Linked DNA regions of Homo sapiens: regions 1 and 3 are each linked to region 2. The links come from fine-mapping of genetic effects on gene expression. A gene starts in region 2. Each other region holds a variant in brackets. All regions are shown on one strand. Distances are from middle to middle. Region 1 overlaps TFEB (transcription factor EB). Region 2 holds the start of TFEB (transcription factor EB). Region 3 overlaps TFEB (transcription factor EB).

Evidence for each region. PIP is the estimated chance that this variant, and not a neighbour inherited with it, causes the effect.
Region 1: its variant is fine-mapped to the expression of TFEB in blood mononuclear cells (TOPMed, PIP above 0.99). The same link has a PIP of 0.9 or more in monocytes and whole blood.
Region 3: its variant is fine-mapped to the expression of TFEB in whole blood (TOPMed, PIP above 0.99).

The regions. Positions count from the first base shown.
Region 1 is chr6:41,703,381-41,713,324 of GRCh38, forward strand. The region is part of intron 1 of TFEB (transcription factor EB); the gene reads right to left. Among named protein-coding and RNA genes, the nearest start is that of MIR10398, 25 kb to the right of the region's middle. RefSeq lists enhancers at 2,262-2,762, 2,279-2,498, 2,679-3,058, 2,763-3,263, 4,079-4,148 and 2 more and a silencer at 3,069-3,148. The variant G/T (reference allele first, on the strand shown) is at 2,982.
Region 2 is chr6:41,731,389-41,741,332 of GRCh38, forward strand. TFEB (transcription factor EB) reads right to left here and starts at 4,220. Exons shown (of 9, transcript NM_001271944.2): 1 at 3,962-4,220. PGC (progastricsin) reads right to left here. Exons shown (of 9, transcript NM_002630.4): 6 at 9,103-9,222; 7 at 8,411-8,558; 8 at 6,342-6,440; 9 at 5,323-5,616. The coding sequence ends at 5,464. MIR10398 (microRNA 10398) reads right to left here and starts at 2,222; the gene lies at 2,166-2,222. RefSeq lists enhancers at 1,319-1,398, 1,416-2,112, 1,469-1,518, 2,009-2,118 and silencers at 2,769-3,208, 3,339-3,868, 3,909-4,378.
Region 3 is chr6:41,692,290-41,702,233 of GRCh38, forward strand. All of the region lies in intron 1 of TFEB (transcription factor EB), which reads right to left. Among named protein-coding and RNA genes, the nearest start is that of MIR10398, 36 kb to the right of the region's middle. The variant A/C (reference allele first, on the strand shown) is at 7,479.

The DNA.
Region 1 (9,944 bases), 28 kb before region 2:
CCCTGCCCCAGGCCCAAAGTCCTCAGAGCACTCCAACCCCGCCAGTGCCTGGCTCCTGCCCCTGCTCCTGGGGCTGCTCCTCCTCCGTCATCTGCTGCCTCAGCCTCCCCAGCCTCCCTGTGGCTGGTCTGCTGTAAAGAACGATTCCCTGGCTTTGTTTTTAAGAGTCAAACCTGCTTCTGAGTACTTTGGAAACAACCACTGTACAACTGAAGTAGCCAGGTCTTCCTAAACAAAAGAAGACAGTGGAGAGGGGAATGGAGGAAGAAAGGACAAAAACATCTATGAGCATGGACGATTGCATTGAATTCACAGAAGGTGGCCTGTTTTCTCTCAGGTGCAAACCAAGAGGCATTAGTACTATGCACACTGAGTGCGTACTCTGCACCAGGCACTGTTCTGCATTGATATGTGTTACTGATTTAATCCTCACCACAGCTCCATCCACCATGATGGAGGCGTTCACATATCCCCTGTTTTACAGAGGGGGCAACTGAGTCACAGAGAGGCTGAAAACTTGCCCGAGGTCACACAGTTGGTAGGTAGCAGAACTGGGGCACCTGGTCTCCCCACAGTGTGCTGGGTGCCCCTGTGGAGAGTCTGTCTGGAAAGTGCCAGAGGAGGCAGGTAGGGGGTCTTGAGCCCATCAGTGAAGGGGCTCTTGGCTAAGCAGGTGGGTGCAGGACACCAGCCTCCCCTCAGCTCTTGTTTCCTCTAGAACTACTCCCATTCAACCCTCCTTCCCCTCAAGATATCCTTTCCATCCAAAACCACCCAGGACTACCCTTGCAGTTCCCCAACAGAGCCTCTGACCCCGCCTCCACCTCCACCACGTCATCTGTCCTGAGTCCGCCCTCTGGAAGACAGCCGGGCTTAGTGGATCACGAATATGCTCTGGACCCTGACAGACCAGAATTCAAATCTGGCTTTGCCATTTGTCAGCTTTGTGACTGGGGGCAGGTGCTTAACCGCTCAGAGCCTCAGTTTCCCCATCTGTACAAAAGGATGGCGGTAATGCCACCTTCCTCAGAGTCAGTGAGGGGGTAAATGGAACTGAAATATGTGATGTGCCTAGCACCTTGGAGGTGGTCTGTGAGTACTAGCTCCCTGCCTGGGTGACCACCAGCCATCTGGCTGGACAGTGAGGGCCTTAGATGGGAGAGGGCCTCTTAAGGCATTGCACGCCCTGTTTGCTGGTTAGAAACAGGCTCTCAGGCCCTGCCCAGACCCACTGAGTCAGAATCTGCATTTTAACAAACTGCCCTGGGAGATGTGTGGGCACATTAAAGACACTTTACTTGTTGCCTTCTGGGGACTTAGTTCCCTGGTTCCAAGCATGAAAATTGGTGGCGGGTGGGAGAACACAGCAGGGAAGCACAGGCCCCTGGTGGAAGCACAGAGCTATTTTAAAGGACAGGCAGGGCCCTTCTGAGCCCCACAGGGAAATTAAGCAGCCTGATTCTCAGGCTCAAGAGCCAAGGTGGAGGCCAGAATGCAAGGCTGCAGGTGGGCTCTGGCTCACTGGGTGCTGGGGCTCTGGCCCGTGCAGGAGGGGAAAACAATCCAGGTCTATGGGGAAACAGCTTCAAAGCCGAGATGGTTACCAGTGGAAAAGCAACCCAGACAGACCATATGAGACACACCCATTCATGCAAACACCACCTCTCACACATAAGCCACTGTCCACACATACACACTCACCAGTACACACACACTGCACCAGGACTTGCCTGCCTGCCCAAAGAGCAGCTCCAGAAGAGAGCAGACAACCTTTGGGACAGTGTGTGCCTGGGCCTGTGTGCTCCGCAGGAGGCCTGGGAGTGTGGAGGCTCCCACAGCAGGTCTAGGAGCCCACTCTCTCCTCCACACGGCTCTGCCTCTGCCTCCCACCTGCCTAAACCCCAGCTCCATCTGAACAATGAGAAACCTACGTCCTGCCCACCTGAGGTTGGCAAGGACCCAAATTTTAATTGGTCACCTGCCTGCTGACTCCCCTCTCCCCCAGTATACCACCATCCTCCTCACCAGGTTGCTGGGGGGTAATCAGCAGAGTGGAGCTCTGACTTCAGGGTTCCCTGAGAGGCAGCCATACCGCAAGGCCTGTGCCCACTCCCATGTACACTCACACGGGACAGCTGTAAAGTCCACCCTCTTCCCAACGACACAGCTTCTGAAGGGCCAGGGACCCTCATCCACCCTGTCCATGAAGAGGTGACAGCTCTCAACTCCACACCCATTTTCAGCTCAGAAACACACATCCACTGACCTCTTTCACCACCGCAGGCTGGACCTCTTCCACCACCACAGGGCCCCCCAGGCTCAGATGGGCTCCAAAGAAACCCTAAATCATGGGGCCAGAATCCCAAGCAGGCCTAGGATGTCCAAAAAAGAACCATCAACTAGGGAGGGTCAGTCTGGTCGCAGCAGGGTGTGTGATTTCATGGGTTCTGGAAAGGCCCTCGGCCCCAAAATATCTTCCCTCTGGGTCCGGAAATCCCTCCCAACCCTCAGATTCACTGCCGGGAGAGGCTCCCACCTGAAGCTCTCGTCAGCTCACACCCCTGGGAGAGGCAGCTGACAGCTGGCCTGAGAGCGGCCAAAGATGGGCGGGGGAGAGTGGGTGCCAGGCCTGGTGACCGTCATCTCGCCAGGGCCGCCCTGCCCACGAGTTCCCACCAGGAGAGGGCGCTCTTCCTCCCCAACCCCAGAGCGCAGGTCCCCAGAATCCAGCACCTCTGGCCAGGGAGAGGGGCCTAGCAAGGACAGGGGCCTCAGCATGGCCTTCCACGTCCATGCCAGGGGAAACCAAGGCCTGCCCCAACTGTCCCCTTGAGGAAGCTGAAGTGCCAGACAGCTGGAGGGGATGGGAGCCCTGAGAGCAGGGAGGTGGGGGGCAGAAGGGGGAATTAACCAGGTTCCAAAATAGCAGAGTTGGTTCTGCCTCACTTCACCCTGTGCAGTGTCTGGCAGCTTCTGCTTTC[G/T]ATCTGAGTCACGCCTGGTGGGGGCAGGACGGGGCAGCCAGTGCTGGCAGAGGCCACTAGACAGCACAGGCAGTGGCCCAGGAACTCAGCGGGGGCTCTTCTCCCCTCACAACACACACCTACACCCACCCCCAACCACCCTTACACCCCCCCACCCCCATCCTGCCCAAGAGTTGGGGTTCTGGGAAGAGCTAACAGGGGCCCACCCCAGGATTCCCAAATGCTGTCAGCTGCCCTAGACCCAGAATTCAGCTTTGCTCCTGCCCTGTCCATGTGCGCTCCGGCTGGCATTCCCACCCCATCTCTGTCAGGGAGCCAGAGGAGGAGACCTGACCTGGAAGCCACCATCTCCCCCCATAGAGGAGAAATGGCCTCCTATGGCAACATTCCAACAGCCCACCAAGTCACCCACCCACCGGATGGAGTGAGTGAGCTGTCCCCCAACCTGCCCCCATCTCCCCCCGCCCACACCCAGGTATGAAAGGAACAGGAAGCAAAATTCACACACACACACTTCCAGCCCTTTTCCTGTCCTTAAACACCATAAGAAGCACTCTGCCTTTACCAGGACAGAGCGAGGAGTGGGGTGTGTTGAACTCTGCATGTGATGGGGTCGGGGGAGGAGCATCGGGAAGTCTGCTCTTTCATCATCATTCTCTTCCACTCATCTGGGCTCCATGCCCTCCTGCCTGCCCAGCCCCAAGGCTCAGAGCTGCTCTGCTTTCCCCCATAGAGTTGAGACTCAGGCAGCAGCTGCCTTACACCTTCTCCCTGGACCCAAGATGCTTGAGCTCAAACCTGAGACATAAACCCCATCTTCCAATGCCTGAACCAATCCTCTCTGTTCTCCTCCCAACAACACACCTGCCTGGAGTGAGTGCAGCCACCTTCCTATCCAAGTGGCGGAGTGGGGAGATGATAGACTCGGGCTGCCATGGCTGGGCCTGCCCACAGGGTAGGGAATGGCACAGGCAGACACACTCCTACCCCTGCCACCCCAGCACACGCACCCAGAGCAGACCTGGTTTGGAAATGAAACATCAAGGGGAAAGGCTGGGGCTGGTGGCTGGAGGAAGAAGTCAGAGGGGCTGTGACTTGGCGTGCCTGCCTGTGGCCCAGGACCACGTCTCCAGGGGAAGCACACCGCCAGGCCCAGCCCCTGCCCCATCCCCATCTCCTGCCCTTCCCCTAGCCCCCACCCCAGAAGGCCTTACCTACACGCCACTTCCCTCTTTTAATTCTTCCCATTCCCTCAGCCCTATAGGGTGCGAGACCTGTAGCCTGAAGCTGGGAGGGCTGGGGATGGGAACAGGTGGAGCCCAGGGGAAGAAGGCTCCTCTCCAAGAAGCAGACATGACAGAGCCTGTGCCAGGGCAAACAGGTATGCCACCGCACGAAATTACTCCCCCACCAAAATGTCCCTGAATTGTATCCTGTTCCTGACAGAGACACAGAGGGAGGCTACTAGGAGGCTCAGTTCCCGGCTGACTAAAAGGCAGCCACGTGGCGGCCATGGGGCTAGGGGAAGAGGCAGGCGCAGTGACAGAAAGGAAAAGGAAGTCAGAAAAACCACTACAATCACAGCCTCAGGATGCTAGAGTTGGGAGGGAAGTGGAAGACGGCTCTAGGCTCTGTGGCGCTCAGCACGTCTGTACCTCCCTCTAGGAGAGGATGCCATGCCACAGGGGCATTGCTGGCCTTGCACAAGGCCTGGGATGGGCGAGCCAGTGTCTGCCACATGGCAGGCGCCTCAGCCGCACAGGTCACCTTCCTCTGCTGTGAGTGCCTGGAGGCATCCTGACAGCTTCCTCTTTTTGTCCATGGCACCTTGTAGATGCTCCCTAAGTATCTGTGAAACACAGTGAGCGTGGAACTGGCGACTGGGGAAGGGTCTGCCTGGGGAAGCCTCTTGGACATAGAAAGGGAGATGTGGGAAGAGGGCTTGGCAGACCCCCAGGGCTGGGCTTGATGAGGTGGCAAAAGCTATCAGGGCCCCAGCCACATGCTCTGGGCCCTCACGATGTCAAAAGTGCCCACCTGAAGATTTCCAGGTGCCAGCACCTGAATTGGTGCCTGAACCAATGAAGTTAGCTCCCTCCCTTCCCCACCACCTCTTAGCCAAAGACACCTATCACTTGACTGGGGAACTCTAAAGCATATTCTGCAGAGGCCTCCAATGGCAGTGAGCCTCAGATGCCCACAGTCACCTTGCTCCTTCACACACATTTTATCAGCTTCCTTGCCTTCCTGTCTCATGAATCCTACTCTACCACTGGTGCTCCCTGGGGGAGCCTCCCAAATAAACTGTTTGCACTCATATCCTTGCCTCACCCAATGGGCCCTGAGGAGGCAGTTATGACCTGATACTGAATAGCTAACTCTAAAGCTTAGAAATAGGGGCCAATAAAAGGGTCAGAGTAATGCAAGCTAGCCCACCCTACAGGGAAGGAGAGAGGCAGGTGTGAGCTAGGGGAAGACCAGTCACTGGGGAGACTGGTCAAGCTGGATGCAATGGCCAAATGTGTACTTGGAACTTCCCCACTTGGCGGAAGGTTAAGACTGCCCTCAGAAGGAGAGCTGGGATGGTAGAGAGAAGAAAACAGGACTTGCCAGAGTTGCAAGTTGCATGGAGAAGAAACCTCCATACCGGGGGTAGTGATGGCAACATTAGGTTGCTGGTAGCAAATGCCAGTAGGACTAGAAGCCCAGCATTGCCTTCTGCCCCCAGGCTGCTCCTAGGATAGAGCTATAGAGCTCCAGCATTCCAGAACCTTGGCATGCCTGTTCATTCAATAACACAGCTATTATGTTCCGCACTTAGAACTAGGCACTGGTGACACCAACAGAGGCCATTTGATTAAACACTAAGAGTGTGTGTTTTGAACCTAGTCAAGCTGAATCCCAGATCTGTCACTTTCTAGCTGTGTGACCTTCATCAACTTACTTAAATTCCCAGGGTCGCAGTATCCTCATGTGTAAAATTAGGACAATATCCACCCTGGAGAATTTCTGTAAGGATTAAACATAAAGTATCTAATGCAGTACCTGGCACAGGATAGGTGCTCAATAAATATTAGATGGATGCATGTATATAATGGATGGATGGACATAATGGATGCATGCATAAATGGATGGGTGGATGCATGAAAAAGTAGATATAATGGTTGGTGGATGGATGGATGGATGGATGGATGGATGGATGGATGGATATAATGGATGCATGCCTAAATGGACGGGTGGACAGATGAAAAGGTGGATATAATGGTGGGTGGATGGATGGATGGATGGATATAATGGATGAAAAGGTGGATATAATGGATAGATGTATGCATGGATAGATGGATGGATGTTTAAAAGGAGATGAAAAAGGCACTAGTTGTCTGCATCGTTCCCATCTGGTTCAATATCCCTTTCCATTAAATTTATTTTTTATTTTTATTTTTGAGACAGGGTCTCACTCTGTCATCCAGGCTGGAGTGCAGTGGCGCAACCACATCTCACTGCAGCTTCACCCTTCCAGGCTCAAACGATCCTCCCACCTCAGCCTCCCAAGTAGTTGAGACCACAAGTGTGTGCCACTATGCCCCCACTAATTTGTTTATTTTTTGTAGAGATGGGGGTCTCATTATGTTGCCCAGGCTAGTCTTGAACTCCTGGCCTCAAGCGATTCTCCTGCCTCAGCCTCCCAAAGTGCTGATCTTTCCACTAAATTTATAAACGAGAAAATAAGATTCCATCACTCCCTAATTTATCTATTTTGGAAATCTACATTTTCATTAAACAGGTTGACAAATATAAAGTAAGATCCTTCTAATGGGCCTTAGCCACATAACTGGGGCAGAGTCATTCCCTGAAGGATGTATAGAGTTACATCAGAATAGAGGATATCCTCCTGGCTCAGTTGCCTTCATACCAGCTCCCACCATGTGGTCATGCCATGCCAGTACCCATCTCTCAGCAAGTCCAACTCCACCCAACTCCTATTCCAGAGAAGGTGGGTCAGGGACCAGATAAAGGAAGGGGAAGCCAGGTAAAAGCACAGCAGGGACAACAGGCCAGGATGGCCAAGGAGAAGAAGCCAAGAACAGAATGCAGGGATTTGGGACAGGGGTAACTACGGATCAGAAAGAAGAGGCTGAAGAGCAGAGAGGATTTATTGTCTTTGGAGAAATGAAGAAAGAAAATATTCCTCAGAGAACAAGGGAGCAAAAACAAAATGAAACAGATGGAGCAACATAGAAAGACCATTTTTTTCCTGCTCCATCACCCCCAATTGCTCTCCACTACCTACCAGATAAAGTCCAAGCGCTCTAGTTGGGCCTCCAAAGCATGCAGGATCCCTCTCCCTAAACAAACACTGGGTGCAGCCAAGGGGACCTCCTTGCTCTCTCACGCCAACCCAATCTGGGCCCCCAGACCCTCCCCCAGTTCCTCTCCCACAGATTATCCAACTTCTCCTCCTCTCTGGAAGCCCTGCTCCAGGGTCTCCTCCTCCTCCCGACAGCACACCCTGACTTCACCCACCTCTAATCACCATTTGGGCACAATTACTTACTCTGTTCCAAGCCTGGTTCTGTGTCTGAAACAGGAATACAAGGATGAATAAGACAGCCCTTGCCCTATGGTTTTTACAATCCAGCTTGGAAAAAACATCATCACCTGATAGCATATATTGTATTTCTTCTACCACTATGGATAATACTAAAACTTGTATTGAGTTGTAAAACCATCTATCAAGGATGGCTTCTAAAGCCGTGATAGAGCCAGTGCCAGGCCCTTGGCTTTATCATGTATTAATTCATTTGGCCTTCCCAATAACACTAGGAAGTAGGAAATACTACTGTACTCATTTTACAAATGAGAAACAGGTACAAAGAAGTCACCTCTCTGGTTTTCTCAGCTGCAGTGTGAACTCCTTGAGGGCTGTCCCTTGGTTTCCTCCTCTCCCACACAGGCTCCAGGTAGAGGACACTCGGACATGGCCCTCTGGGCTCAACGTCCCCACCGCTGTGGCCTTAGGTGAAGGTGTGCTGACTGGTGGGTGGGAATGGTATACATGCAGGAAAATGAGCGCCAGCAGAATGGAGGAGACTGGCCTCCCAGGTGGGGTATGAAAGGACACAGTCTCGGTGTCCCCTTCCAGCATCTCTCTTCCCTGCCTGTCCCCAAGGTCCAGCCCTGGCATTTCACAATCCTGCAGTCACTGCAGAATTCCCTGTCCCTTTGCTAAGAGCGCTGAGGTGGTGTAGAAGGAGGGAGCCAGGCTTCATGCCCAAGACAGACAGGGGAACAAAAGGGTGGGCTGTTGGAGAAGGGAGGAGCCCTTCAGCTCCCCCAAGCCCCAGGGGGTCAAGCCTCTCTGAGTGAATAAGCCTAGCCTGGAAAGTAAAACACAGGGCAGGCCCCAAAAGGGTCATGTCTGGGCACCCTCACCTTGGCAGGGGGGTGGGGGAACATGGGCCTGCGGCAGAGGCAGGGCCCTCATGGCACCGAGCTGGGCTGCCCCCTTGGCAGGCTCACCCAGCTCAGAGGCCTCTTCAGGCTGGGAAAGCTGAGGAGGTGGATGGCTCAGACCCAACTTAGAATAGAACCATCATGAGGCATTGAGTGGGGTTCTGGGTTGGTGAAGGGGGCTTCGCACAGCCTATAGAGCTCAGCAGTGGGGGTCCAGTCCCCAGCCCCGGCCATACCTCACCTCAATATTTCTATCCCCTCCTAGAAGGCACAGTGGATGTACAGTGCAGGTAGAGCAGGGAAACTGAGGCACAGAGCCTGTCCTCCAGCTCTGGAAACCTGCTCTGCCTGTCTGGCCACCAGCACCATCCTTGAAAATGAACCCCCATGTTTCTCACAAGCACACAGGACTCCAAATCCTACCATTCCAGGGTCCTACAGGACTCCAGATCCTACCGTCTCAGGGTCCTCTTCTACCCTGGGGACATATATTTTCGAGAAAGAGGCTCCCCAAAGTGGGGCTGTGGAAAGAGGGCACCGTGCCTTTTCCTGAGTCCTGGTCTGGGATTGGGTGACGAGACCAGTAAGGGGCTCAGCCACAGCTCTGGGCTCCAACCCCGGCTCTGCTTCTCACTAGCCATGAGGCCTTGGGCAAGTTACTGAAGCCTCTCAGGGCCTCAGTTTCCTCCTCGGAGAACAGGACTAAGTCTCCCTGCTCTTGTCTCTCATAGTTGATAGTATCCAAAAGGTCCTGGTACCCCACCCAGGACTCATACCCTTAATCACTAGTCCTCCCTCTTCCTCCTCACCAGGGGCCCAAGGGCTCAAGCACTGGCAGGGGCTGCTGAGGAGCTGACGGAGCCACTGCTGTTGATAGAGCCGGTGCCAGGCCCTGGGCAGGCACGGGGCCCAGGCACACAATGGGGCTGTGTGTGCACCCAGCGTTACTCTGGAGTGGAGCTGGGCAGGCAGGCTGGCATCTGGGGTCAGGCCAAGAATTCATGTCTCTGGAGAAAGCCTCCCCACCCCCTCCCAGGCAGCACAGCTCTTTCCAGGGGTGAGCAAGCACCACCCACTCCCCCACCCGGCCTAGGAAGGGAATGGGAACTTGCTCTGGTGGCAGGTACTGGGAAATGGGGACTCCTGAGTCTAGCCACTGGCTGGGCTGCTCGCTTGCGAGGCATTTTGGACCTATTACGTAATCTGGGGTTGCAGCCTCCTCTTTGGCCAGAGGGAGGGTGAAGTCTGCGGGGGCCAGGAGAAGGAGCAAGAGAAGTCTGGCTGCGACCCCCACCCCATACAGAGGGCCTCAGTCCTCCCTCCCCAGCTTACCAGGGCCCTGGGCTCAGCACAGGTTTTCTGAGGCACCCAGGACTCCTGGCCACCCAGCCTGCACCAGGGTGCTGGGGTACCCCAGGAGAGGAGCTGGCTCACTCCCCAGGAGAATGAGTCACCAGCTGGCTGCAGCCAGGATGGCGAGGCGGGTGGTGGGCAGGTGGAGCTTGTCCT
Region 2 (9,944 bases):
TTCCTGGTTGCTTCACCAGGACCAGTCTTTAGCTAAAGCTCAATTCTGCGGACTGCAGCATCTCCCAAACACCCCTAACAACCCACCCCCACCACCCCTTGCTTTCTCTTCCTTTTTCTTCCTCCCCGGTGCCTTTGGCAAAGATTTGTAGAAGGTTCGCTTTGGAGGGAATCCCACAGATGATCCAGATTCACAGATATGGAAACTGAGGCTGAACAAAGCAGAGACCTGCCCAGCCACACAGCCAGTGAGAGGCACAGTGGGGTCTCTCGACTCCTGGTCCAGTGCTCTTATGACTTTACTGCCGTCCCATTCTCACCCAATGATCCCCACAGCCTCTTCTGCACATCTGATTAAACAAGGGCCTGCTGAGGGCTGCACTGTACGTTAATGGACGTGGAATGCATGGCACAAAGCCGGGCACCTAGAAGGCCATCAGTAAGGATGCCTCCTCCCTTCCTGGGTGTCTGGGGCTTCCAAAGAAGCCCAGGAAGTCTTGCCTGAACCAGTCTCCTTCCCTGGCCAGTCAAGACAGGTTCCAGCCGGAGGTCCTTTGGTCACCCATGCTGGCAGCTCAGAAGAAAGGCCAGGAAACAGGTATGGTGCTCAGACAGGGGCCTCAGCAAGTTCCCACCCTGCTTTTTTATTTTTATTTTTTTCATACAAATTCTTTTTTCAATTGAGTCCAGGTCTCGCTATGTTGCCCAGGCTGGTCTCGAACTCCTGAGCTCCAGTGATCCTCCCACCTAGGCCTCCCAAAGATCTGCTTAGAGCAGGAAACCCTGGATAGAGAAAAGAAGGTCCCCAGACCACCACACCCCCACCTTTTAAGAGAGAACTCCTGGGAAACCCCTTGAAGAAGTGGTCTTCTTTAGGGACTGAGAACACAGACTTTGGAGTCAATTGGACCTAGGTTAAAATTCCAATCCTGTCACTTCCAGGCTGTGTGATTTTAAGTGACTTGCTTAACCTCTCTGAGTAAGTAAGTGTAATGCAAACAGTAATTCCCACCTCACTCTAAACACACAATAAATGTTGGCAACTATTGTATAATCAATCTTATTATAATATTGTTCTAGTATAGCATAAAAGAAGAGATGAATATTCTATTAATATAATCTTGTTTTATTGTTACACTCTCATAGACACACATGCACAGTTCATCTCTACCCACATTCCTAGACACTTTAACCACACACACAAACTCACAACCATTACATAAACCCCACACCAACCCAGAAAGCAACATCATGTACTCACCATGTACCAGGCACTGCCGCACCCTTAGTCCTCACAACAGCCTGTGAGGTGGGTGTGTTTTCATCTCCCTCCTCTCAGATGAGGATCCACACTGTACATGCATATATGTTCACTGCGTCCTGGGACGTGAACATTTCTGGCAGCTCTGGGAACCCTGAACTCCCACCCTCCGATCAGAGGAGGCCAACCCAATTTCCATGGTCATCTCCAGGGCAGCCCCAAGCCAGGCCCCAAGTGCTGACTGCCCTCCATCCCCAGGACAAAGGCCCAACCTGGTTTTCATGACAGCTGTGGTTGGGGAAACCCCTGTTGCCTGCAGAAACCGAGTTGACTTTGAAAAGGAAGAGACAGAACCCAGGGGGTGGCTGGGCTACTCCCTGTGGGGGCAGGTGCTAAGTAACTCTATTAACTCTGGCTAATGATGCAATTACAGTCATAAACAGAGCCCCAGGAGGGCTCAGGGCCAAGAGCTAGACCCTCAAAGGGCAGCCAGACTTGAGGGGTGGGAGTCCCCTTCCACCTACTTCTCAGCTTTCCAGAAACAGGCTGAGGAGGCCTGTGACAGCGCACGTGGGACCCTGGAAGGGCTCCTGCCTGCCCTGGCCCACTCCCTGCCCACCTCTGACTGTGAGTCACCAGGCCATTAGCCCGTAAAAGCCCAGTTGGCTCTCCCTAGATTCAGTGCCCACCTAGGGTGTCCCCTGCCCTATCCCCTGAACTCCTTCCAGGGCACCCGGAACCAAGATACCTGGGTCCCCATTTGGCTCCGTCTCCCAGAGCTGAGTTGAGGACAAAATAACCCTGCAGCTGTAACAAGCCTTGTAAATGGTAAGCACCATTGGCTTCCCTCGGGGAGAAGCAGAGCATGGAGTCACCCAAACAGCTCTGCCCTTCATTTACACCCTCTGGCTCCCAGCTCTCCGGGCCCCGCGGCCAGGAGGCAGACGGAGAGAAGGGAGCCAGGCGAGTTGCTCGTGGTCCTGGGGCTGGGGTCACCGGCATGGTGAAAGCATACCGTCAGGTTAGCAGGCAGGGACCTCAAGGCAGCTGACCCTTCCCTTCCTCTGCCTCTGCCTCTCCTGGCCGGCCAGGAACTATTGCTGGCTGTCCCTCCCCGGACAGTGAGCTCCCTGAGGGGAGGGCCTGAGGACTGTCTCCCAGTCGTGGCACCAAGAACTGCGTTCTAACCGAGCGCATCCGCATCTGTCCACCCAGAAGGAAACCAGAGACCAGCCTCCAACCTCATCCCCAGCTGCCCAACAGTGCCAGGTCTGGGCCAATGGAATCTCGGCCAGGGCGGGTGCAGGGGCCTGAGGCCACACCCCAGAGGTGTCACTGGGGGCCTGCATCCGTCTTGTCCCTTTCCCTGAGGGATGAAGCAGCCCCTCACTCGGGATGGGGGGAGGGCAGAGGATGGGAGCTGGGCAGTAATTAACCTGCACTTCCCCAGCGAGCTCTAAGCCAAAAACTGCGCTCAAGTTGAGTGCAGAAGCTCCGCGCTGAACCGTCCCCAGAACAGACAGGCGAGAGAACGACGGCTGGAGCTGAGGGGGGTTCGGGGGAAGGCGCAGCGGCCAGGGGCTGGCGGAGAGCGGAGGGCGGGGGCCTGGGCCCAGCGGGGTTCGCGCAGACAAGCCCCGCCCCGGGCTCCCTCCCTTCCTCACCCGGGGCGCGGGGCTGGGGCGCGCCAGGCGGCTGCGGCGCGAACCTGCTCGCGCAGCCCGGAGCAGCTCGGGGCAGCCGTGCGTGAAGCCGGAACCCCGCGCGGGGAGGGGGCCGAGCTGGCATCTGCCCGCTCCCTTCCAGGAGGCGAGCGGACGCGCTGGGCCAGAGCTGGTCGGGACAGCCCAGGGGTGGGCGGCACGGACTCGGGGGATCGGGGGGAAGGGGGCGTGTTTTCCGGGATTCGGGACCGAGACGGGGGGAGGGGGAAACTCGGGGGGCGGGCAGGCAGCTGGGAACCCGGGGGGAGGCAGACAACGGGGCGCACGGAGGGAGCGCTCCGGGGTTGGTGTTCCCCAGGGTCATAGAATAACCCACGGGGAGAAAGAGACTGCCCAGGGACTCGAGGGGACGGGGCCAGGGGCGGCTTCTTCAAGAGACCGAGCTGGAGGAAGGGACGGGAAGGGAGGGAGAGATGGTACTTCCACCCGCCCCCCCATCAGCCCAGCCCCCGGGGCGTGGCGCCGCTCTGGCCCTCCCACTCCCCCCGCTGGCCTGGCCAGACTCAGCCCCCGCACACCTCCCCTACCTCCGACCCCCTCTCAGGCATCGCCGGCCCCAGCCGTGTCCGGTGGAGGGGGAGTGGGCGCGGGGCCCGCGCGTCCCTCAAACTTCTTGCGAGTTCACCATCACGCCTCCCGCCCCTTCGACTCCCAGCTCCGGGCCGGGAAGGCCCATGCCCGCCCGGCCCCTCCCGCCCGGTTACATAAGGTCGCGGAGAAGCCGCCCCCGGCCCGCGCCTGAAGGGAGGGGCCGAGGGGGCTCCCGGCTCGGCGGGCAGCGCCGCTCGGGCCACGCGCTGGGCGCCCGGGGGCGGACGGACTGCGGGTGGGTGGCGGCGCGCACGGTCCTGCTTCCCTCTCCTGCCGGCATCCCCCACCCTCCCACCTGTCTCCGGGACCCACGGGATAGGGGCCAGGGAGCCTGGGTCGGGGGTCCCGGGCCCTCCTCGTGCCTCTCGCTCCCCGGTCCCGCTCACCTCGCTCTGAAGGTCAATCTGTCCGCCGCCCGCGCCCCGCGGCTCCGGCAACTTGTCGCAAGTTCGGGTGCCTGGCCCGCAAGCTGTGCCCGCCACCTGCTCCCGGCCTGCTCCGGCCCCGTGCCACCAGGGAGGCCCGCCCCGTCCGCCCTTCCCGCCGCCGTCGGCGCCGCGGCCGCTCCCTGCGTCCCGCCCGGGCCGCCGCCTCCGCTGTCACCGAGCCCCGCGCCCGGCGCCCGGGCTCCGGCTGTCACTCCACGCACACTTCCCTCCGCGCCCGGCAGAGGGCAGCACCCGCCCCGCCTCCCAGCCGCTCTGCCTCGGCGCCCACTGGGAAGCGTAGTTCTCGCTGCAGTCCCGCTAGGCACGCCGGGATTTGTAGTCCCGCTCAGCGGACTAAGGCTTACAGGGAAAGAGGCTCTTGACTTGGAACCTCTGATCCACTTCTACCTCTTTGCAAGTTTTCTTTCTCCTCTCAGTAAAGTCCCAAACCAGGGCTCACTAAGATACATTCTGTAGCCTGTCCGACCCCCTAAAAGGAACCTGCAGCCTGCTGTCCTTCGGCAGTCTAAGAAAGAGAGGGTCCCAGATGGTGTGCTGTTGCCATAGAAACTCCACCTGTGGCAAATTCCAGCTTCTCTTCAGGAGTAGGGTGCAGGACCTGGATCTTGCACTTTTATCCCTGCCCCGATCATAAGGGGCAAGGCCAGGGTGAGCCTGGCGAAGTACAGGGTAAAATATGACAGTAGAAGGCAGCCTGCCCCCATTATGGGTTCTACATTCACGCCCCACTCACCAGCCTGAGCTTGCTGTCATGTTGCTGGACAGAAATTGTCTGAGCTCCTTTCATGTCACCTTCCCTTGTTGGAAGTTCACAGGGTGCGGAGGCATCATTCTCTACTTTCTCCTCTTCCCCGCCCCTTTTTCCCTGTCTCCTCCCCCAGCCCCTCCCCTGCTTTTCTTCTCCTTCCCCTCCTCCTTTTCTTCCTCTCTCTCCTCCTTCCCCACATACAATGTTGCTCCTGGTTTCTGGATCTTTTGCTAAGAGGCTCCTGAGGAGGACAGGGATGAAGTCCAAAGGGACAAGATCCCTTGCTGAGTTGGTTCCAGCAAATAGGCTCGATTTCTCTGTGACTCAAGTAGGAACACTCTCCCCCGGCCCGCCACCCACCCACCCATGATGGCGCTACCACTGTCTTCCCTTTCCAGGGGAAAAGTATGAACTTTAAGCTCTGAGGGTTACAGAGCCCATCCCAAGCCATGCCTTAGGTCCCATTTCTCTTAGAATCACAGTGACCCACCAGGAAACCTTGTAGCCACTCAGGGAAAACTCCCTTCCAAAAACAACAGGATGACCAACATAAAGAAGAACTATTTATTATTAGAGAAAGTCCAGAGTCCAGAAAAAGAAGGCTGAATCCAGAGTGGAAAGACAGATACAATGCCCTAGGAGGGTGCAGGGTCAAGAGGAAGAGGGGAGCCCACGTGTCGAGGCAGCAAGTCTAGGCGGCAGTGGCAAAGCCTACTCTGTTGTTGCCCAAGTCGTAGACGGAATAGTAGGACCTGAGGAAGACATCCCCGAGGATCCACAGGGGCTGGCCGTTCTGGGAGGACAGGTAGGTGGGCTCGACTCCCACGGTGCAGTAGCCGTTGTTCTGCTCAACAAAGAAAGGCAGCACTCATTCATTTGTCCACACATGAGCTGGGCCCTGCTCAGCTCTGAGCCCTGGGCTGGGAGCACAAGTGCAGAGCTGAGGGAGCCAGGGTCTCTGCCTTGAGGGCTCATAGGCCAACTGAGCCACCAGAGCAGAGCGGGTGGGAGGATTTCTGGAACAGGTACATTCAGGCTGCCGTGGTCCTCAGCAGGGTCTCCTCTCCCCATGATGGGAAACTTCTCTTCCCACAGACCTCCCTCCTGCTCCCAATTTGGAGCAGATCAGCCTGGTGGTTAAACCTTGGAGCCAAACCAACTTGAATTCAAACCTTAGCTGTGTCGCCTTGAGTCAGTTACTCAACCTCTCTGAACCTCCAAGTTTTCATTTGTAAAACAGAAATGAGTATCTCCCTCATTAAATACTGTGACAATTAAATGGGATCATGAAGCAAAGTGCTTTGCACAGTGGTCTGCCCTAGTAAGTGCTCAACAAAGAGCCCAGTGCCTCTCCCCACTAATTAATAATAATTGATCATAGATGACAATCTTCTATTTCATAGCCTTGTTCCAGAGAAGGGGGTTTAGAATCAATGAGTGGGGAAGATAAATGAGTACAAGCGTGGAGTCGGAAAATGGCACAAGGCAGGAGACCCAGCATTTCTGGCTCCCCAGCCCTTCCTCCCAACCCCAATCATGGTGGCTCAGCCTGCAGGGACCAGGACTTACACTGAGGATATAGGAGGAAGGTGGCAGAGGGAACTCCACACCATTGATGATGAAGGTCAAGCTGGGCAGATTCTGAATGCTGTTACAGTTCACGAGAAACTGCAAGAGGAATAGGTCCCTGGTTAACTCATCCTCCCCCTGATAGCACCCACCAGCCCCATCATCTCAGCCCCTGGATCCCAGGCCTGAGCTCCGGGCCCAAGCCCTAAGCCTGTTTTTGGACTAGAGAATGCAGCTCCAAGGGAAAGTCCTGTGTAGGTAATGCTGGCATTATCCCATGGACTCATAGAATGGGTGTGATTTGGAGTGATCCCAGAGCCTCCTAACTCCTCTTGCCTCGATTTCCCATATTAAAGATCGAACCTCTGCTCTTTCTCTGCAAGTGCCTATATACATATATATGCATATATATATGCATATATATATACATATATATGCATATATATATACATATATATATGCATATATATATGCATATATATATGCATATATATATGCATATATATATGTATATATATATGCATATATATATATGCACACACACACACACACACACATACACAGGCATGAGCCATGATGCCCAGCTTGCAAGTGGCATTTTAAAACACGCAGATCTGGCCGGGCATGGTGGCTCGTGCCTGTAATCCCAATACTTTGGGAGGCCGAGGTAGGCAGATTGCTTGAGTCCAGAAGTTCGAGACCAGCCTGAGTGACATGATGAAACCCCGCCTCCACCAAAAATACAAAAATTAGCTGGGCATGATGGCACACACGTGTAGTCCCAGCTACTCAGGAGGCTGAGGTGGGAGGATTGCTTGAGCCCAGGAGGCGGAGCTTGCAGTGAGCTGAGATTGTGTCACTGCACTCCAGCCTGGGTGACAGAGTGAGACTCTGTCTCAAAACAACAATAACAACAACAACAACAACGACAAAAACAACACAGATGGCTGGGCGTGGTGGCTCACATCTGTAATCCCAGCACTTTGGGAGGCCAAGGCAGGCAGATTACTTGAGGTCAGGAGTTCGAGACCAGCCTGGCCAATATGGTGAAACCTCATCTCTATTAAAAATACAAAAAAATTAGCCAGGCGTGGTGACATACACCTGTAGTCCCAGCTACTCAGGAAGCTGAAGCCAGAGAATTGCTTGAACCCAGGAAAGTGGAGGTTGCAGTGAGCCAAGATCACGCCATTGCACTCCAGCCTGGGCGACAGAGAGAGACTCCGTCTCAAAAAAACAAAAACAAAAAACAAAAAAAAAAGAAAAACACAGATCTGCATAATGAGTACCCCACTGGTCTCCCAAAATTAAAATTAGTGGTAGTGGGCTTGGGTTAATTAAACAAACCCTTGGCTGGACTCAAGACAGACAAGCGCAGGGGAGCATGGCCCTGTGGAGGTGAGAGAGGTGGGGATAAAGGGTCAGCCCTGGTTGCTCACATACTCAGCCCCACATTCCAGTCATTTTGCTCTTATCCCAAAGTCCAGCAAGCATTTCCTCTGTTTCTGCTGAGTGACTGCAGCTCAGAAGAAATTCCTGCCTAATAGTAACCTCCTTCTCCCCTTCAGCACAAGCAACTGGCCCCGCCTGAACAAGCCTCCAGGCCCCCATCCTGCACACAGCCCCAGTCGTCCCAGGTCCCCCTGCCTCCAGCGCCTTGGGCAGATAGAGGCTTGGAGGTCAAGAGTTAGGCTTTTTTTTTTTTTTGAGACAGGGTCTTGCTTTGTCACCCAGGCTGGAGTGCAATAGTGAGATCACGGCTCACTGCAGCCTCCACCTCCTGGGCTCAAACAATCCTCTCACCTCAGCCTACCAAGTAGCTGGAACTACAGGCGCATGCCACCGCACCCAGCTAATTTTTGTATTTCTTGTAGAGACAGAGTCTCGCCATGTTGCCCAGGCTGGTCTCAAACTCCTGGGCTCAAAAGATCTGCCTGCCTTGGCCTCCCAAAGTGTTGGGATTACAGGCATGAGCCACGGCGCCCAGCTGGCTATTGTGTTCCCAGGAGAAATCATGAATGCCTCTGGAGTAGCCTCCTGGGGAAGAGAGACACCCTCACCAGTCACACCTGTCCATACTCATCCTCCTGGGCCCCTGTGGCCTGCAGAAGAGCACTCATGTACTGCTGGGGCACAGTGAGCAGAGAGGTGCCTGTGTCCACGATGGCCTGGCAACCCTCAGAACACCAGCCGGAGGCCTGGCCGCCGATGAGGAACCTGTATGGGGAGAAGACAGGCAGCCTCAGGACTCCCCCAGTTCAGGGCAGCTGGGGCGGGCTTTCCCCACCACTGTGGGACAAAGAGCTACAGCTACTTTCTTGAGGAAAGTGAGGACCCTGCAAAGATCAATCCGGCTATTCCCCTGCATCATGCCATGGGACCTAGTCCTTAAAAGTGTCAAGGAAGTTTCTAAAAACACTGAAAACCAGGTCCACTGATTCATTGTAAGGACTTTGAGCAAATTAGTTGCTAACACACCTTCGTTTCTAATCTGTGAGCCCATGATGGGGCTGGACTGCAGGGTCCCTAATGTTCGGGAGTCCAGGTCCTGCCCCTCCCTATGTTGTCCACATCCACTCTCTTCTCCAGGCTGAGCTGGGCTTTGTCACCCCTGCAGAGGACAGTTGTGGCTTTGTAGGAGTAAGCCTCAGGGGTCCTCTGCCCCATCCCAGAGCAGTGCCAGACTGTGTGTGTGTGTGACATGGCCTGGAAGCCCACTCCAAGGAAGTGCCACATCCCCAGGGCCCCACCGCAGACTCACTCTTCAATGCCAATCTGCCAGTAGAGTTCCTGGGTGACAGGCGCCCAGTAGATCTGCCCCGTGTACAGGCTGCTATCCACACCCCCAAAGACAACCGCTCCCCCGCTGGAGCCCTGCTGGCTGCAGGAGAGAAAGGGAAGGGGAAGTCAGGGAGTGCCATGGAAAAGGACTTTCCTCCTGAGCAGTCACCTCCACAGGGAAACAGAGCTCCTTCCCTGATCCAGACGGGGGCTCCCTGAGGAGAGCACTGAGTCTCCCTTCAGACTGGGGCTCCCTGAGGACAGGGCTGTATCCCTTAGATTGGAGCTCCCTGAGGATGGGGCTGTGTCCCTTAGACTGGGCCTCCCTGAGGACGAGTCTGTGTCTCCCTCAGACTGGGGCTCCCTGAGGATGGGGCTGTATCCCTTAGATTGGGGCTCCCTGGGGACTGGGATGCGTCCCTTAGACTGGGGCTTTCTGGCCAGGCCTTGGAATTCCCAGCGCCTCAGGCTCCCGAATGATGCTGACTTCTGGGGGGTCCCCTAGTGGTTGGGACCCCCAGCCCACACTCTGCTCTCCTCTCCCCTCCGCTTCCTGCCTCTGGTAGACATGTCACCGGGATCCCCACCCCGGCCCAGCTTGTTACTTTTCTGCTGAGATTGGAGACAGGTAGGGTCTTGGTGAAGGGGGTAAGGATATTCCATGTTTGTTCCAGAGGCTTCTCTGGTAGCTGGAGTGTGGAGCTGGGTGGAGCTGCTCTGTTTACACGCAGAGGAATCATAAACAGAGGTGGAGAGGAAGTTAGCAACATTAGTAACAGGGTGAGGTCCTTGAACTTCAGATTCCCCAGATTAGTCCAATGA
Region 3 (9,944 bases), 39 kb before region 2:
GGGACATGGCATATGCTGAATGCATGTGTGAAGAAATGTATCTTATTTGTGAGCCAGGCAATGGGGATACAACTGCAGTTCCTGAGCTCATGGAGCCTACAGTGTAATAAAGAGAAGGGCAAGTCCACAGGCTTAGGAGGGCCTGTATGGGGAGGGCCACTTCCAGGCACCTGGCACTGCCAGAGCCCAGAGAGGACTTCCCACCAGCACATCAGCCCTAATCTCCTACAGGTCTCAGTGGGACAGGTGTGACTTAAGCCCCCCAGCCCAGTCTGGAAGGAAAGACAGGGAAGAATGAGTCCTACAGCTTGGCCCACTCTGTCCCTAGCTCATTGACTGACCCTAGGTAAGTGACCCTGGGTAAGTCCCCTCCCCCTCTGAGCCTCCATCTCTCCATGCACAAAATGAAAGGGTTGGACCCAGTAATTTCTAAGGTCCTCCCCAGCTGAGACAGGCTGAGACTCTGAGAGGTGCAGGGCTCCTGAGTGTGTCCAGACCCCATGAAGGTCCTGGTAGGGGCTGGAGGGTCCCATCTTGGGGATATTGCAAGAGGCAGTATGACTTTGTGGTTGAGCAAGGACTTTTGAACTGAGAAAATATGGGCTTGAATCCTAGTTCTGCCACTTCTTTGCTGTGTGACCTTGGGCAAGTCACTTAACCTCTCTGAGAGTCAATTTCTCATTAGTAAACGGTCTCTGCTTCAGAAGATTGGAGCACTATATGAAATTAATAGGTCTTGCACAGTATGTAGCACCTGGGAGGCTGAGTGCATGAGACATGGATGGGCACATGACTGGCAGGCGAACTGATCAGTGTGGACCAGAAGCCAGAGCTGTGTCTCAAGCTCCTAACAATGAGGCCCAGACCTCAGGGGATAGCAAAGGGAAGCAGCAAAGGCTGACATGTTCTGGCTAATACCAGACACTGGACTTAGTCAGCATTAGCAAAAAGAACTGGCAAATATTCAGTGAAAATCACCAGATAATAGAAATAATAATAACTTGAATTTATTTGAGCATTTACTGTATGTCAGGCAATGTTCCAGACTCCTTCACCTGGAAGAGCCCTATGAAGTAGTTCTGCATATTACTCTCCTTTTATAGATAAGGAGAAACAGAAGCACAGGAGATTAAGTGTCTTTCAGCAGTGAAAGGGACAGAGCTGGAACCCAGCCCCAGGCAGCATGGCCTCTGAGCCCATGCTGGGGAGGAGAGGGTCTCCACACAGAGCAGGGAGGAAGCTTATTGCAGGCTGCCTGGCTGCCAGGCCCAGGAATGGAGCCCATGCCACCTGACTGCCAGCCAGGGCTCCTCCCACCACCACTGTGCCTTCCCGACAAGGTAGGAAGGCAGGCAGTGGCCCTCACCCCACCCTCCTTCCTTCTCTGCCCCTCTACACCATGAATCAGTAAAGGGGCTGTCTCAGCTCCTTGGGTCTCTCCACCCAGCTACCAACGGGGCAGTCCCCAGAAAGAAAGGAGCAGATGCCCACCACTCCCTTCCCATCCTGCAGCAGGAACACAGCTGCAGCCTCCACCCATGCCTTTGCCCACCCCCTTCCTATGCTGCTACAGAGGGTTATCCCTGTCTTTGTACCCCCACTGCCCACCACACGCACACTAGCCCTACAGACCTCATAGGCTCTGACCCCAGCCCAACCCACCCCCTCGCAGCTGTACCCTCTACACACCCACCCACACGGCACTGGCTCACCCCCCCACCCTTGGGGACAATCTGACTTCAGTTGGCCCTGGTGGGGGTGTGGGCACCGGGCCTGGCAGTGCCAGCCGGCACAGGGAGGGCTAGGGGAGAATGATCCCCTTGTTTCTCTGACAAAGAGCTGAGCGTCTGGCCTGGCCTCGCGTGGACTGGAGCTGGCTTTGCTATGAGGAGAGCCTGGGCTGGACCCTGCCTCTCACTGGCTGGGCCAGCCTCAGTTCTCTCATCTGCACAATGGACTTGGGAATCCCTGCCCCACCGCCCCCTGCCAGAATCTGGGTGAGCCTCCTGGGAGAGGACGTTGGAGAAGTGGACACAGTGAGGTGTCTGTGCATCAGTGGGTGTCAGTAGCCTCAGCTACTGTCCCCTGACAGAGGCTGGCAGGGTAGTGAGGCTCCCCAACCCCACCGCTGGAGCTGTCACACCCACAAAGCTTGTCCTCCAGTGAAGCTCCAGCCCTCTCCCCTGGCCCTGGTCGCCAGCCTGGGTTGCTGAGTGTGGTGTAGGTGGGATGGGTATGGGGTAAGGGAGGGACCTGAGGGGATCAGAGAGCGATGGGGGTGGTCCAGGACATGCTAATCCCCCCATCCTTAGCCTCCAAGCATGCCTACTCACTCTAAAATCCTGAGGGTCCACTCTCAGCCTCCCCTGACACCCAGTCTAGCCAGGAAGAACTAAGAGGATGGACATGGGAGAACCAAAATGTCCCTGGCCCCTCCCACCATCTGGCCCTTCAGACCCACCATGCCTGGAAAGGGTCCACTGTGTACAGGTTCAGTAACACTGGGGGCCTGGAGTGCCTACTGCATGTAGACACCAGGGATGGGGCACTTCCCTGGAGAGCCTTCTCCCCTGCCCCTCCCAGGTAACACCCTCCTCCTGAGAGGAAGGGTTTGATGCCCCCAGAGAATCCCTGCCTCTCCCCAATCACATGGCTGCCCCCATCAACACCCCCAGGACCCTCCAGCTGCCTCCTGCTGCTGTCCACCCACAGCCTCTCAGCTGACTCTGCCTCAAAGCCCAGACTGGGTTCCAGCTTAGTCATGTCCAAAATGAGTTCTGTAATCCCACAGGCTCACTGCCCCTACTGGCTAGGCGACTTCAGAAAGCTACTTCACCTCTCTGTGCTAGGCTGTCTTCCTCTCTAAAACGCAGCACCTGCTAATCACAGCACCTGCCTTTTGGGGCCATTGGGGGGATTCAAGGTAAGTGTGTGGCAGTCGCTTCATAACCAGGGATCCCGGTCTCCTCTGGTCAGGCCAGAGCTGGTTTCATCCAGTCTGTGTGTGGGCCTTGCCTGTCAGTCATTTACACCTTAGTATGAACCAGCCCATGAATCATGAAATGGTATATGTGTAGACAACAGGAAGATCAGAGTACCAACCGCTAAATGCTTCGTGAATGATTGCCATGGGTCAGGGCTGGTCAATGTGCTTTTCCTAATGTTAATTCTGTTTTTTCTTCCCAACAACCCAATGAGCTGAGTACTAGTATTATCCCCATTTTTCCTGGAGGAAACAGAGGCACAGAGAGGTGAAGGAACTCACTCAAGGTTACACAGCTGATTAAGTAGCAGAATGGAGATTTGATCCAGGCAGGCTGGCTCACAGCCCCCACTCTTTAACTACTATTCTGGGCTCTCCCAGCACCCCAAACTGTTCAGAGTTGTTACCGCTGGGGAGGGGAGTGGGAAGGGGCAATGGAGGGGGAGGGATAAAGAGGGATTTTTATAGTTCTTCGTTCCACTGGAGAAGCACTCAGCTCTTACAGTGGGAATATGTGCGACTTGTGTGATTCTGTTAACAGGAGAAAGGAAGCACAGCAGCTTCTGGGGGTTTATGGGGGGGCCCAACCTGCTTCCAGGGCTTCCAGTCATGTCCAAAGGTGGGTCGCCAAGGGGAAGGAATCCCCCCAGCTCCACCTGGGCTGGCCCAAGCCCTGCCCTGCTCGGTGCAGTGGTCATTAGGCCAGCCGCGGTCCCTGGGTGAGGACACCGAGTGGCCAGCAGAGGCACAGAGCCAGGGCCAGCAGCCACCAAGCATTTGGAGCTGGAGGGCCAGGGCCCCACTCAGTTTCTACCACAGCCCCAGACAAGGGCTTCTGAGGGGAGTACCATCTTCATGCAGTGCCCTCAAACTATTGTCAGCTGACGCCAGTCCATTCAGTGGCTTGTGAGGCCTGAACTGCCTTGGGGATTTTTCTGCCCTCTAAATGATCCTTTAAAACTTGGAGCAGGAAGCTGAAAACACACTCCATGACCCATGGACCCCCTCCTATGCATGCCCACCAGAAAAGCATCCACGTGTTCACCAAAGCACATATACTAGAATGTTTGCGTGTATAGGAACCAAAACTGGAAACCACCCAAATGTCCACTAAAGAAAGATAGATAAAGAAGTGGTGGGCCAGGCATGGTGGTTCACACCTGTAATCCCAGCACTTTGGGAGGCTGAGGCGGGCAGATCACTTGAGGTCAGGAGTTCGAAGCCAGCCTGGCCAACGTGGTGAAACCCCATCTCTATTAAAAAATACAAAAATTAGCCGGGCGTGGTGGTGTGCACCTGTAGTCCCAGCTACTCGGGAGGCTGAGACAGAAGAATCGCTTGAACCCGGGAGGCAGAGGTTGCAGTGAGCCGAGATCATGCCACTGCACTCTAGCCTGGGTGACAGAGTGAGACTCCATCTCAAAAAAAATAAATAAATAAAATAAATTGAAGTGGTGGTACATCCATACAATCAAATGCTACAAAGCAATGACAGCAAATGCACTGTTGTTACACATGACATAGATGACTCTCGCAGACATAATGTTAACGAAAGAACCAAGGCACAAAAGTGTATACAGCATGCTCTGCGTATATGAGTTCAAAAAAACGCAACATTAATCTACTATGTTAGAACTCAGGATCCTAATTACCCTTGGGGGAGTGTCTGGGAGGGGACACAAGATGGCTTGGTGGGTAAGAGGATTAGGAAAGTTTTGTAATTTGATATGGGTGTTGGTGCCATGAGAGTGTCATATTTACAATAATTTGTACAGCTGCTCCCTTACAACTTATAATTTTCTGTATGTGTGTTGTATTCTCATTTTAAAATCACATAAGAATGAGGGCAGACCAGCCTGGCATGGTGGCTCACGCCTGTAATCCCAGCACTTTGGCAGGCCGAGGCAGCCAGATCACTTGAGGTCAGGAGTTCAAGACCAGCCTGGGCAACACGGTGAAACCCTGTCTCTACTAAAAATACAAAAATTAGCCAGGTGTGGTGGCACATGCCTGTAGGCCCAGCTGCTTGGGAGGCTGAGGCAGGAGAATTGCTTGAACCCGGGAGGCAGAGGTTGCAGTGAACTGAGATCACACCATTGCACTCCAGCCTGGGCAACAAGAGTGAAACTCCATCTCAAAAAAAAAAAAAAAAAAAGAATGAGGGCAGACGTTAAATAGTTTAAAAGAAGAGTTAGGGAAACTACCTTCACCAACACCACCCCTTCTCCAAACCCCCCCCCTTCCCCAAGTGTGTCTATGACTTTAAAATGCCTTTGGTACCAGGCACCTTCAACACAACTGCCAGAGCATACCTTGGTACAACCTCTTTGGAAAAGCAATTTGGCAATATATGTCAAAGCCTTGAAAAATATTCACCAGTCCAAGGAAGTAATCATAGATGCAGAAAAGGATGTTGTGCATAAAGATGCACTTCACATTATATGGAAAAAAGTCAAAACTAACCTCAATGTCCAGTTATAGGATAGTTAAATAAATTACGGTGTGTCCCTCCTGATGGACTGCTATACTTACAATAAATAACATGAGGATATGTCAGGTGACAAAATGTAGGATGTAGGGGGAAATTGTATATAAAATCTGATCATCACAATGTAAAAATATGTATAGAAAAACCTCTTGGGAGGAAATATACAAAATTATTACTGACTTCTTTGGATGATGTAACCATAAGTATTTTGTGTGGTTTTAAAAGCCTTTTGGAATGTTATTCTTTCTCTAGAATGAAGATGTATATCTTTCTAATTGAAAAAAAAATATTTTATGCTAACAGCTAATGCTCATAGAATGCTTACTGTGTGCTAGGTACTGTTCAAAGCACCTTATGTAATTATCATAATTATTTCATGATATGAGTGACGTGGGTACCATTATTGTCCCCATTCAAGGAATGAGGAAACACAGGCCCAGAGAGGTGGTCACTTGCTGAAGGTCACAGAGCTAATGAGTGGCAAGGCTGGACCCTGGCAGTCTGGCTGCACCGCCCCAACCCTGGGGCTGGGAGTTTGGCCTCAGTCCTGCATTCAGGGTGAGGGCGGCCACGTTTTGTTTTAGAAATTCTCACTGAAGAAGCCTCCCTGCGATCAAAGAGTTTCAGCGGCTGATCTCGTTCATCCAGCCCAGGAGCCAGAGGGTGTCCGGGATGATGGAACAGTCTGGAATCCCCAAACACAGGCAGAAAAAAAAATTCTACCCTTCCTCAAAGAGCAGAGATAATTTCCTGTATTCCCAGAAAAACATATGTCTGGCGGCTGAAACAACAAAGTGTGCAAGCCCAGAGGCTGGGAGGCCTGTTTAAGCCATTGATGACGCTCTGCACCTCTGTGGTCGGAAGAAGTTTTCTTCTGATTCAGTCTGTTACACTCTCAGTCGTGGGGGAGCTGCCCGGTCAGTCCTGGGGAAAGAAACTGACCGCTAAACAAAAGCTTCCTGAACAGGTTCGAGATTCCTGGAGGCAAAGGAAGGGCTTTGTGGCCTCCTAGGAACCTTTCAGCCTAGGGAAGGGAAGAGAGAAAAAAATACCAAACTTGGGATTTTTCTCAGCCCCCTCTGGCAGAGGAGGCAGCAGAGGAAGTCCTGATGAACTAGGAAACAGAACAAGGACATCACATAATCCTCATGGACAAAGCCATTCCACATTACGGAGGTGGTCATGAGTCACTGTAGGGCCTGGGGAGGGGGCATCAGATGGCCCAGACCCAAACAGAGTGAGGGGTGGAAAGGTATCCTACGACTCCCAGGAGCCAGCAGTCCTGCCCATATGATGCTGTGGGAAAGGCCAAGTGCTTGGGTTCAAGTCTTAGCCTTGGGCTGGACTCAATTGTCTGGGTATGGCCTCAGTCTCCCCATCAGTCAAGCAGGGCTTGCCAGCTGGGGCCACGTCTACCTCATAGCAGTTGTGCTCTAAGTGAGGAGGCTGGGTGTGTAAGTTGTCTTGCAGGTGTGAATTTGTGGGCAGAGGGGAGGTGTCACCATTCTGGTCACTGTTCAGTGTTGCTCCGTCCAGGCCCACTGGGGGCATCCCTGCATAAGTTCCTTTGGGGAAAGTGTCCCATCCATTCACCCATTCATTCACACATACACACATACACACCATCTGAAAGCCCAGACTGGGGCAGAGCAGCCTAGTGGTAACCCCAGCTTCAGTCTCTCCTTACTAGATAGGGGCAGGAAGGCCTCAGGCCAGCTTTTCCTATTACCAGGAGCCCTCTGTTTCCTCTCCAAAAGCCTTGGGTCTTTTAAGATTTTCTTTTCCAGAGCTTGTATATCATGTCATTCACTGCAGGAGATGAGAGAGGCAGGTGAGCAATAACAATGTCCACTCCTTTGGGTTCTAAGGGATAAGTAGTCGGAGTGTTTACCACAGTTCCTGGCACACTGGAGATACTTCATAATATAGCCTTTTATTATATTAGCTGGCAACTTCCGATACAGAAACATAGCAAACCCAGGACACCTGGTAAGTGTGCACTGTTTG[A/C]TTGAAAGGTCCTTGATATCAGAAGCAGAAATGAGGTCAATGGGACACGCACATGCTTTTAACAGTTTTAATGCCATGTTTTGGTCTTTTTCCCTTTTAGTGAAGTGTAACTTATCCTAGCAAAATGCATAGATTTGTAGTGTACAGCTCAATGAATTTTTACAGGTGTGTGGCCTTGTATAATCACTGTTTAGATCAAGATGGAGAATGTCACCATCACCCTGGCAGGTTCCCTCCGGGACCCTGTCCTGCATCACCATGGCTGAGTGCTATGGTCTCCAACAGCACACAAAGGCTGTCATGCAGGATGTGGTCTTCAGTATATTTCATGAAATGGAACCGCTCTGCCAAGTGGGGACACTTACTGAGGACTGACCAACCCCTATTTGTGATGAATAAAGATCAAGAAACAAAAGAGGCTGGGCGCGGTGGCTCACGCCTGTAATCCCAGCACTTTGGGAGGCTGAGGCGGGCGGATCACAAGGTCAAGAGATGGAGACCATCCTGGCTAACACGGTGAAACCCCGTCTCTACTAAAAATACAAAAAATTAGCCGGGCATGGTGGCGGGCGCCTGTAGTCCCAGCTACTCAAGAGGCTGAGGCAGGAGAATGGCGTGAACCCGGGAGGCGGAGCTTGCAGTGAGCCGAGATCTCGCCACTGCACTCCAGCCTGGGCGACAGAGCGAGACTCCGTCTCAAAAAAAAAAAAAAAAAAAGATCAAGAAACAAAGAATGAATTACATGAGGAAGCAGAGGCTCCAAAAGGGAGATCTGCACAATGCGCTTCAGTGGCAGCAGAGCAAGACCCCAGGATGCGTTCTGCACCGCCTCTCCCAGACCCCCTGCAGGAATGCGCTGCGGGAGACTGCAGGGCTGGGGGCAGGGGGCAGTCAGGGGCTTGTTTTTAAATCTCTGAGCACCAGCAGGAGGTGGGGAGGAGGGAAAGGAAGGAGAGGAGAGAGGAAGGGCGGTCACACAAGCTCCTGGCCCACTTAATGGCCTCCTGTTCCCACAGCTCAGGCCCATCAGCCCCAAGTTTCAGCTCACATCCCACAGGAAAGGGTGGGAACTGGCGCCTCCTGGCTGGTCAGACTGTTGGCCCGGGACAACAGGGGGAGCAGCTTCAAAGGCCATTGCAGACCAGGGAGTCGCCCTGTCCTGTCCCACTGGGACCAGCTGGGCCCTGGCAAAGACGACTGCCACTGGGCATGGCAGGACAGGGACGAGGGACATGTAGCTAATAGGAACATGAAAGGAGAAACTAGAAAAGGATTCCACCCCTGTGATATGCACGGACCGGCCCAGCCACCCATGTGGACGCTCTGTCTCTCCGTGTCTGCTTCTCTTTCTCTCTTCTCTCTCACACACATGCACGCACACATGCACACATGTCCATGTGCACACACGTGTAGCCGCATCCCTCAGCTGCCGCTTGCAGTCTAAGGATCCCCTTAGCAGGCAGCCACCTTTCTCCTGGGTTGGGGAGTGGTGGGACTGAACCCCCACCCCTTGTGCCCCTGCACCCGCCTCCTGGGCACTCCATCTACTCCAGCCTCCTGCCTGTGTCTGCCATGCTTTGTTCTCTAGTTGTTTCCTTGCCACCTACCAGTCTCCTCAGCTACAAGGAAGTTTCAGAGAAATCACTTTTCTTCTTCAGAACCTCCACACCATCCCACCCATCAGACTTTCCAGAAAGAGATGCACGGCCCTCAAGGGCTGCTGGTCCAGTGACCCCCACACACTCAGTTATCACCCACTTGGCAAACGCTCCGAGTCCCTCCCACATTGCACTGCGCAAGGGGCCTCTGTTCAATCACATTCATCCACACAAACACTTGATGGGATAAACAGCAACACAGCAGGATAGGAAACCGAGACTCAGAAAGGTTAAGTAGGCCAGGCGCAGTGGCTCATGCCTGTAATCCCAGCACTTTGGGAGGCTGAGGCAGGTGGATCACTTGAGGTCAGGAGTTCGAGACCAGCCTGGCCAACATGGTGAAACCCTGTCTCTACTAAAAATACAAAAATTAGCCAGGCGCGGTGGCACATGCCTGTAGTCCCAGCTACTTGGGAGGCTGAGGCAGGAGAATGGCTTGAACTCAGGAGGCAGAGGTTGTAATGAGCTGAGATCGCACCACTGCACTCCAGCCTGGGCGACAGAGCAAGGCTCCGTCTCAAAAAAAAAAAAAAAAGAAAGATTAAGCAGCTTGTCAGAAGTCACACTGCAAGAGCACAGTGAAGTGGGGGTTCAAGCCCAGGTCTCTCAGGTATGTGACCACCAGCAGCTCCAGCCCAGGAGAGGTAACCTGGGGCCCATAGGAAAGGTCTCCCCATGTAGATGGCTTGTTGTCCCCTGCACTCCCAGTCCTGCGCCCCCCTCATCCCATGTCACCCTCAGCGAATCCTACAGAGGTTCCCCAGAGAGGCCTGCATGCTCCTCAGCCCTCCCAGACCCCACCCACAGA